Linked DNA regions of Homo sapiens: region 1 is linked to region 2. Evidence: fine-mapped expression QTL. A gene starts in region 2. The other region holds a variant in brackets. All regions are shown on one strand. Distances are from middle to middle.

Evidence for each region. PIP is the estimated chance that this variant, and not a neighbour inherited with it, causes the effect.
Region 1: its variant is the best candidate, but not a certain one, in a credible set for the expression of MAGEE2 in prefrontal cortex (CommonMind, PIP 0.55).

Annotation. Positions count from the first base shown.
Region 1 is chrX:75,175,717-75,181,092 of GRCh38, reverse strand. It overlaps a transcript of UPRT not described here. Among named protein-coding and RNA genes, the nearest start is that of ABCB7, 22 kb to the right of the region's middle. The variant G/A (reference allele first, on the strand shown) is at 2,763.
Region 2 is chrX:75,782,299-75,787,674 of GRCh38, reverse strand. MAGEE2 (MAGE family member E2) reads left to right here and starts at 2,421. Exons shown (of 1, transcript NM_138703.5): 1 at 2,421-4,688. The coding sequence starts at 2,624. The coding sequence ends at 4,195. The region is part of intron 3 of LOC107985664 (a long non-coding RNA gene); the gene reads right to left.

The DNA of each region.
Region 1 (5,376 bases), 610 kb after region 2:
TGCTAAGATAACTGGCTAGCATACGCAGAAGACTGAAACTGAACCCCTTTCTTAAACCATATACAAAAAAAGATGGATTGAAGACATAAATTTAAAACCCAAAACTATAAAAACCCTGGAAGACAATCTAGGCAATACCATTCAGGACATAGGCATGGGCAAAGACTTCATGATGAAGATGTCAAAGGCAATTGTGACAAAAGCAAAAACTGACAAATGGGATTGAAGTAAACTAAAGAGCTTCTGCACACCAAAAGAAACTATCAACAGAGTAAGCAGACAACGTATAGTATGGTAAAAAAATTTTGCAAACTGCATCCAACAAAGGTCTAATATCCAGAATCTATAAGAAATGTAAACAAATTAACAAGCAAAAAAAAAAAAAAAAAAAAAAAAACAAAAAAAAAAAAACAGAGAAAAGGGGGAAGATGGAAGACAGGAAGCAGGACTAGCTTGCAGCTCCAGCTCACATGGACAGAGCAGAGTGTGGAGACTCATATCATGAACTTTTGCTCCAGAAATACTGCAGGAATATGTCAGAAAAGCGGAGAGAATCTACAGACCCTCTGAAAGAAGTACATCGCTGCTGCAGGATCTGGGAGAAAGCCCAAATACTGTGAGAGCCCAAGCTGTGAGAGTGGGAAAGAGGGATCGTCTACCCTCAAATACACACCTTCACTGGGGAACCTGAAGGTCTAGATCATGGGAGAATGACTTGAGCTTACCTGGAGCTGAGTCAATTTAGAGAGCTGAGCAAAACACAGGGGTAGTAGAAGAAGCAGTGGGAAAAGCCCTGTGCGCTATCTGGGTCCCCAGGGAAGCCATTTCTGACTTGTCTCACAGAGGTTCTTGGGGAGGGCTGACAGAGGAACTGGGAAAAGACCACAGGGAGAAGGAAACCTCCAACTGAACTTTGTAAGAATTCCAACTGAATGCAAAGTCTCCTGGCCAGAACTCGGGGAAGGGCATGATTCTGGTGTGCAGATTCAACAGGTGGGGAGGCAACAAAGTGAGAGGTGACAGCGTGCTGGCAGTCCTCACAGCCCTTGCTCACTCTTGGCACCTCCTCTGCCTGGGCTCCCAGTTTGGCGGCATTTGAGGAGCCCTTCAGCCCACCACTGCACTGTGGGAGCCCCTTTCTAGGCTGGCCAAGGCTGGAGCCCACTCCCTCAGCTTGCAGGGAGGTGTGGAGGGAGAGGCGGGAGCGGGAACCGGGGCTGCATGCGGCGCTTGCGGGCCAGCTGGAGTTCCGGGTAGGTGTGGGCTTGGCGGGCCCCGCGCTCGGAGCAGCCAGCCAGCCCTGCCAGCCCCGGGCAATGAGGGACTTAGCACCCGGGCCAGTGGCTGCAGAAGGTGTACTGGGTCCCCCAGCAGTGCCAGCCCACCAGCGCTGCGCTCAATTTCTCACCGAGCCTTAGCTGCCTTCCCGTGGGGCAGGGCTCAGGACCTGCAGTCTGCCATGCCTAAGCCTCCCACCCACTCCATGGGCTCCTGTGCGGCCCGAGCCTCCCCGACGAGCACCACCCCCTGCTCCATGGCACCCAGTCCCATCGACCACCCAAGGAAGGGCTGAGGAGTGCGAGCGCATGGCGCGAGACTGGCAGGCAGCTCCTGCAGCCCTGGTGTAGGATCCACTAGGTGAAGCCAGCTAGGCTCCTGAGTCTGGTGGGGACGTGGAGAGTCTTTATATCTAGCTCAAGGATTGTAAACACACCAATCAGCACCCTGTGTCTAGCTCAAGGTTTGTGAGTGCACCAATTGACACTCTGTATCTAGCTGCTCTGGTAAGGATGTGGAGAGTCTTTATGTACAGCTCAGGGATTGTAAATACACCAATCAGCACCCTGTGTTTAGCTCAAGGTTTGTGAGTGCACCAATCGACACTCTGTGTCTAGCTGCTCTGGTGGGGCCTTGGAAAACCTTTATGTCTAGCTCAAGGTTTGTAAACACACCAATCAGCACCCTGTGTTTAGCTCAAGGTTTATGAATGCACCAATCGACACTCTGGTGTCTAGCTGCTCTAGTAGGGCCTTAGAGAACCTGTGTGTCGAAACTCTGTATCTAACTAATCTGAAAAGGATGTGGAGAACCTTTTTATCTAGCTCAGGGATTGTAAACGCACCAATCAGCGCCCTGTCAAAACAGGCCACTTGGCTCTACCAATCAGCAGGATGTAGGTGAGGCCAGATAAGAGAATAAAAGCAGGCTGCGCTAGCCAGCAGTGGCAACCCACTCAGGTCCCCTTCCACACTGTGGAAGCTTTGTTCTTTCACTCTTTACAATAAATCTTGCTACTGCTCACTCTTTAGGTCCACGCTGCTTTTATGAGCTGTAACACTCACCGCAAAGATCTGCAGCTTCACTCCTGAGCCCAGAGAGACCACGAGCCCACCGGGAGGAACAAACAACTCCAAATGCGCTGCCTTAAGAGCTGTAACACTCACCATGAAGGTCTGCAGCTTCACTCCTGAGCCAGTGAGACCACGAACCCACCAGAAAGAAGAAACTCCGAACACATCTGAACATCAAAAAGGACAGACTCCAGACTCACCATCTTAAGAGCTGTAACACTCACCGTGAGGGTCCGCGGCTTCATTCTTGAAGTCAGTGAGACCAAGAACCCACCAATTCCGGACACATTTTGGTGACCACGAAGGGACTTTCGCCTATCGCCAAGCGGTGAGACAATTGCCAAGCGGTGAGACCATCGCCTATCGCTGAGCGGTGAGACTTTCGCCTATCGCCAAGCAGTGAGTACCATC[G/A]GACCCCTTTCACTTGCTATTCTGTCCTATCTTTCCTTAGAATTCGGGGGCTAAAAACTGGGCACCTGTCGGCCAGTTAAAAGCGACTAGCGCAGCCGCCGGACTAAAGACACGGGTGTCAGGCTTTCTGGGAAAGGGCTAACAACCCCCGACTCTTCGGAGTTGGGACCGTTGGTTTGCCTAGAACCAGCTTCCGCTTTTCCTGTACTTCTGGGCTGAGCCGAGGGTCAACAGAGAGGAAAGCCATGCAGCTCCGGGGTCCCGACAACATGTTGGTTGACCCTGCGGCCATGAGTGGAACTCTCACAAGCATGTCGCCCAAGCGAGACTCGCCCATCTATCCTATCTATCCTGACCTTTGCCCTCTGGGTCCTAATGCCTGCCAGAGAAACTTCCTCTCACCTCTCTTCTCTGAGGTTAGACCCACCTCTAAAAATTGCTACCTGTCTCTAGTGCTTTTCTAGTTTCTCCTATAAGAATGACTTCTAGTATAAACTCCAGGACTCTGTTACCTTCTTTAGGCACCTGGGCTCACCAATCGGAAAGACATAATTTTTGCCCAAAGCCCCGTTGTAGTGGGGACTACCTGGAATTTTAGGATCCCTCCTCAGACTAACAGGCCTAACAAAAGCTATTCCTGCAGCTAGGATATGGGGAGCCTCAGAAATTGTATCCTTCCTATTTATATAAGTGAGGACAAAAGGTGTCACTCCTCCAGCCCTAGAGATCCTTTCCCTCCCTCAGGGTATGGCCCTCCACTTCATTTTTAGGGCATAACATCTTTATAGGACAGGGGTAAAGTCCCAATACTAACAGGAGAATGCTTAGGACTCTAACAGGTTTTTGAGAATGCGTCGGTAAGGGCCACTAAATCCGATTTTTCTCGGTCGGTCCTCCTTGTGGTCTAGGAGGACAGGCAAGGGTGCAGGTTTTCAAGAATGCGTCGGTAAGGACCACTAAATCCGACCTTCCTCGGTCCTCCATGTGGTCTGGGAGGAAAACTAGCGTTTCTGCTGCTGCGTCGGTAAGTGCAACTATTCCGATCAGCAGGGTCCAGGGACCATTGCGGGTTCTTGGGCAGGGGTTGTTTCTGCTGCTGCGTCAGTGAGCGCAACTATTCCGATCAGCAGGGTCCAGGGACCATTGCGGGTTCTTGGGCAGGGGTTGTTTCTGCTGCTGTGTCGGTGAGCGCAACTATTCTGATCAGCAGGGTCCAGGGACCATTGCAGGTTCTTGGGCAGGGAGAGAAACAAAATAAACCAAAACCATGGGCGGTTTTGTCTTTCAGATGGGAAACACTCAGGCATCAACAGGCTCACCCTTGAAATGCATCCTAAGCCATTAGGACCAATTTGACCCACAAACCCTGAAAAAGAGGTGGCTCACTTTTTTCTGCACTACGGCTTGGCACCAATATTCTCTTTCTGATGGGGAAAAATGGCCACCTGAGAGAAGTACAAATTTCAATACTATCCTGCAGTTTGATCTTTTCTGTAGGAGGGAAGGCAAATGGAGTGAAATACCTTATGTCCAAGCTTTCTTTTCACTGAGGGAGAATACACGACTATGCAAAGCTTGCAATTTACATCCCACAGGAGGACCCCTCAGCTTACCCCCATATCCTAGCCTCCTTATAGCTCCCCTTCCTGTTGATGATACTCCTCCTCTAATCTCCCCTGCCCAAAAGGAAATAAGCAAAGAAATCTCCAAAGGTCCACAAAAAACCCCAGGCTATCGGTTATGTCCCCTTCAAGCTGTAGGGGGAGGGGAATTTGGCCCAACCCAGGTACATGTCCCCTTCTCCCTCTCTGATTTAAAGTAGATCAAGGCAGACCTGGGGAAGTTTTCAGATGATCCTGATAGGTACATAGATGTCCTACAGGGTCTAGGGCAAACCTTTGACCTCACTTGGAGAGACGTCATGCTACTGTTAGATCAAACCCTGGCCTTTAATTAAAAGAATGCGGCTTTAGCTGCAGCCCGAGAGTTTGGAGATACCTGGTATCTCAGTCAAGTAAATGATAGAATGACAGCTGAAGAAAGGGACAAATTCCCTACTGGTCAGCAAGCAATCCCCAGTATGGACCCCCACTAGGACCTTTACTCAGATCATGGGGACTGGAGTTGTAAACATCTGTTGACCTGTGTTCTAGAAGGACTAAGGAGAATTAGGAAAAAGCCCATAAATTATTCAATGATATCCACCATAACCCAGGGAAAGGAATAAAATCCTTCTGCCTTCCTCGAGCGGCTACGAGAGGCCTTAAGAAAATATACTCCCCTATCACCCGAATCACTCGAGGGTCAATTGATTCTAAAAGATAAGTTTATCACCCAATCAGCCGCAGATATCAGGAGAAAGCTCCAAAAGCAAGCCCTGGGCCCTGAACAAAATCTAGAGGCATTATTAAACGTGGCAAACTCAGTGTTCTATAATAGGGACCAAGAAGAACAGGCCCAAAAGGAAAAGCGAGATCAGAGAAAGGCCGCAGCCTTAGTCATGGCCCTCAGACAAACGGTTGAGAGAGGTCAGAAAATGGAGCAGGCCAACCACCTGGTAGGGCTTGTTATCAGTGTGGTTTACTAGGACACTTTAAAAAAGATTGTCCAATGA
Region 2 (5,376 bases):
TTTCAATATTAACGTGAAAAAACACTTTATTAAAATTGTTCTGGAAATGTATAAAAAGGAGGTCAGGAAGCATCAAAAAAAGTTCAGAATGGAGAGCATGATCTCATCTTTTTTACATTATACTTAAAGAGCGGAAAACATGCCATATGTCACAGTCACAGAGACAGCTTTTTGTTATTCATTTAACAATAACTAGAACTTTTTAGAAACTTGTAGAATAGAAATAGCTGAGACAAGAAGTGTAGCTCAATATGGCCAGGAAGAAGATATCATGGAAGGATGTACTGGGGAATAAAGATGAAGATAGAGAGCCAAGTAGCGACCAACTTGTTAAGGGTTTCAATGCTGTGGAATGGGATCAGGATGTCATTTCAGAGATAAGATGCTGCCATTCAATGTTGCTTTTCTTTATTAGATGGAGGGAGTAGTAGGAGGTTCAACTCGCGACAAACTGTGAGCTGAATTTCAGGGGGAAAATGTACCAAATTGTTTGTTTTTGTTTATAACTAGAGAGCTTAAAGATCTTATCTCAATTTGCCCCCTGGGAAGCACCTATCTAAGACAAGGAACAGGAGCCCTTCTGGGGAAGGTTAAAGACCAGGGTGAAGGGCCCCATCAGGTCTGGCCTTAATCATACCTTTGTAGCAGCTTGGAAGACAGTGCTGGTTTCTACAACACTCTCCCCGAAAAAAGGATCAGCATACAAACCACACATTTCTACCGTCTAGAACATGCACATTCATTTGTGTAAACATTGATCTCTTTAGCCTAGTTTGACTAAATTCGTGGCCCTGAGTTACCTACTTCAGTACTGAAGAAAGCACCTGGGATGTAGACAATTTCAGAGGTGAGTAACCCCCACATGTGAAGACAGTAGCCTCTGAAGGAATTCCAGGGCATAAGATTACTGAATGTAATGTTCTGTGGAATGTAACAGTATTCATTACCATCAAGAATTTAAGGAAGAATTTCAATTGTAACTGCAGATGGCAACCCTATATAAATCTTTTCCCTTTCCAATGCCGCACTGAAAAATGCAACCATCATAGTCTTCAACTTGATGATTGAAGTCTAGGATTACACCTATGTTTTAGCCCAACTATTTTAGTAGAGCTCTCAGAAAATAAAGCAGCTGACTCACCTCTTCCTGGCAAAAGTGTTTGGATTATGCCTCCCCAAACACACGTGTGCTGGCACGCATACACATACATAAACCCTCTGAATAAATAGCTTCTATTCTGACGCTGCCATTCCTGCCCTGTGGGGCCACAACAAGCTTTGACATACTAAGTGAAGAACAGAAAATCCAATCCTTACTGTCTAGCAACCTTCATCCTCATCTACCACCCATTCTAGTGCACTCTGGCTCTAGTCACCGTGGTGAGTGGCTGTTACACAAACTTGTACCTACACTCCTCTAGGCCTTTCCTGTTGCTGTTACTTCAGGTTAGAATACTACTATAAACCCTTCCCATTTATTCATCACTTAGAGCTCAACTCCTTCTTGAGGCTTTATTGGAAACTGCCCGCAATTTAACATACCCCAGACTAAGCTGTAATTCAATACTTACCTCTGTGTTTGTATCACATGTTAATTCACCCTCCATCAGAGCACCTATTTTCATCTATTTTATGAGTCATGTTTAATAAATAAGGTTAAAGATCAGATGGTGTGAGAGAAAGTAATATGCTTGAGACTGACAGACCTGAGTGGTCTCTTTCATTTATTGCTGCTTGACTTTGGACAGGTACATTTACCTCCATGACCCAGTTTCCTCATCTGTAAAATGAGGATCATTAAGAGTAGCTATCTAAGAGCTAGCATTATATGAATAAGTATGAGGAAAATGAAAGCACCAGAAAGAGTGCCTGCACATAGTCAGTGCTCCATAAGTGTTATCTCTCATTATTATTACCATTGTTTGAACATACCCCAGAATGTAAGCTCCACACAAAAAGGGAAAAATCACTATGTTTGTATTCTGATGTACAGCACTGTGCCTGGCATGTGGCATGTGGTCAGTAAATATCTGTTGAGTGAATGGAAGCTTTAACGAGTCTGTGAAATAATTCTAATCGTTAGCGCCCTCCTCCTCCTCCTCCCTTCCTCCACCTTCTGCTCCTCCTCCTCCTCTCTGAATCCTCTACCGCCTGATAGCATGGTGCTTTAAGCCCCACAGAAAAACTTCAAGTGGAGGGAGCATCACTGAACGGCTCCTCATCCCTTGACCCTTTTGCTATATCTGTTACTCCATTTCTCGAATTCTCTTCTCTAACAAGTTCGAATTCAGCAGCAACCACTTCAACCAGCCTAGCCTGCCCTTCAGAGGTGAGGGGGCAGGAATGAGAGACAAAGCATGGAAGACGAGGAGTGGGGCGTGGCCACCACAATGCAAAGACTGACTGCGCCTGCGTAGGCTGCGGCAAAATAACGCTCTGAGGCTTGCAGTCGTTGCTGGCCAGCACTTGTGTAGAAAGATCGCTCTTCACACCAGATTTCACTTTTGATCCTTCCAGCTCCAGGGTCTCGGGCTTCAGCTTTGTGCCGAGGCACCAACACTGCTGCGGTCCTCTCTCCGACTGATCGCTGATCTCACCGTTCCCGCTCCTGTCTCCTGGAACCATGTCTCTGGTAAGCCAGAATGCACGCCACTGTAGCGCAGAGATCACTGCAGATTACGGCGACGGCAGAGGTGAAATACAAGCTACTAACGCCTCCGGGTCCCCCACCTCCATGCTAGTCGTTGATGCCCCCCAGTGCCCTCAGGCGCCAATCAACTCTCAGTGTGTCAACACTTCCCAGGCCGTTCAGGACCCGAATGACCTGGAGGTCCTGATCGACGAGCAGTCCAGACGTTTGGGGGCGCTCAGGGTCCATGACCCTCTAGAAGACAGGTCGATTGCTTTGGTGAATTTCATGAGAATGAAAAGCCAGACGGAGGGGTCTATCCAGCAGTCCGAGATGCTGGAGTTTCTCAGAGAGTACTCAGATCAGTTCCCTGAGATCCTCAGACGAGCCTCAGCTCACCTGGACCAGGTCTTTGGGTTGAACCTGAGAGTTATTGATCCTCAGGCTGACACCTACAATTTAGTCAGCAAACGGGGTTTCCAGATCACCGATAGGATAGCGGAGTCCCTGGACATGCCAAAAGCAAGTCTCCTGGCCCTAGTCCTAGGCCACATCCTCTTGAATGGGAACCGAGCAAGAGAGGCCTCCATTTGGGACTTGCTGCTAAAAGTTGATATGTGGGATAAGCCTCAGAGGATCAACAACCTCTTTGGGAACACAAGGAACCTCCTCACTACTGACTTTGTGTGCATGCGATTCTTGGAGTACTGGCCGGTGTATGGCACTAATCCCCTTGAGTTTGAGTTCTTGTGGGGCTCTAGAGCCCACAGGGAAATCACAAAGATGGAAGCCCTGAAGTTTGTGTCAGATGCCCATGATGAAGAACCCTGGAGCTGGCCAGAAGAATATAATAAGGCCCTGGAAGGTGACAAAACCAAAGAAAGAAGCCTGACTGCTGGCTTAGAGTTCTGGTCGGAGGACACTATGAATGATAAGGCAAATGATTTGGTCCAGTTGGCTATTAGTGTCACTGAGGAGATGCTGCCTATACATCAGGATGAGCTATTGGCTCACACTGGCAAAGAATTTGAGGATGTGTTCCCAAATATCCTCAATAGAGCTACTCTAATTCTTGATATGTTCTATGGGTTGTCTCTGATTGAGGTTGATACCAGTGAGCACATCTACCTCCTTGTCCAGCAACCAGAATCAGAGGAAGAGCAAGTGATGCTAGAGAGCCTGGGGAGACCCACTCAAGAATATGTAATGCCAATCCTAGGTTTGATCTTCCTGATGGGCAACCGTGTCAAAGAGGCCAATGTCTGGAACTTGCTTCGAAGATTTAGTGTGGATGTAGGGAGAAAGCATTCCATCACCCGTAAGCTTATGAGACAGCGCTATCTGGAATGCAGGCCACTGTCCTACTCTAATCCAGTTGAATATGAGCTTCTATGGGGTCCTCGAGCTCACCATGAAACCATCAAAATGAAAGTCTTGGAGTACATGGCCAGGCTCTACAGAAAGCGACCACAGAACTGGCCAGAACAATATAGGGAGGCTGTGGAAGATGAGGAGGCCAGAGCCAAATCTGAGGCAACTATCATGTTTTTCCTTGACCCCACGTGAAGTCTAGGGAATATGTATCACTTCAGCTGAGTGGCATAAGTTAAAGATGCCTTGGTAAAATAGGCATTGGGGCTCTAAATTAGAATCCAGGTAGGGCTTGTGTGGGAAGTACAAATTGTGCTTGCTGTCTGTGTTCCAATTCTAGTAGTATTTCCTTCCTTTTAATATACTCTTGGATTAGGTTAATGACCAATATTTATAAATGGAATTTTTCATTTGCCATCCCGGTCTTGTTTCAGCATAAAAGTTCAGACAGCTCTGTAAAATGTATTGATAATATTTACATCTTTGAAATAATCAGTAAAATGGTCTGGTACAGGAGTTAAATAACAATGACACACACACAACAAAACAAACACAAAACCACTGATCTGTGATTGCTCTCCCTTTGTGTCTACTGCCGTATACATATATACAACTATATATACACAAATATATATATACACAAAACTGTCATTTACCTGTATTTGCAATAAAAGCATAATGAATTAGACCCTATGCTTGTGCATTCATTTATTCTATAGGCATTAAGCACCTGCCATGCTCTGAGAACAGTGCTGTGTGCTGGGAATAAAAGAGTGAAGAAGACCCAGCTGGGCTCCAGAGCTTAAGGGGGAGGGCTCATGGAAGTAAACAAGCAATTATATTATGCTATGGAAAGTGGCATAATAGGCATAAGCTCAGAGTTCTATGAGAGTCCACAAGAATAACTCCCGATTTTAAGTGCTGGGAAGGATAGTGGGAAGGTGATGGCATCTAAGATAGTCTGGGGAAGGTGCAGGGGTGTCAAGCCTGGATGAGTGGGAAAGTAGTCAGGAATAGTGGTGGGAAGGATGAAGTGGTATGGAGGGCTGGGGACAAGATGTGCTTTAGTGACATCTATTGTAAGATCTGAGGTTGGGGAGAGGAAGGGAAGGACTGCTAGTGAAGACAGAAGCAGCGTGTAAAGCACCTGTGAAGAATTTGAAATAGCTCAGAAAGACAATGACTTTAAAGGAGGAGTGGGAGAAATAACTCTGTGGCAGAGGTAACAAGGGCCCATATCCTCAGAGTGACTCTTGAGAGCCAACAATGGCCTTGCACCTTCAGTCAGACTGAAAAATCTACCTGGAGGAACTCTGCAGGGGATCCTCTGCCAATGCAGTTTATTTCAGCACCCAAGCTGTTAAGGTGAGTGTTTG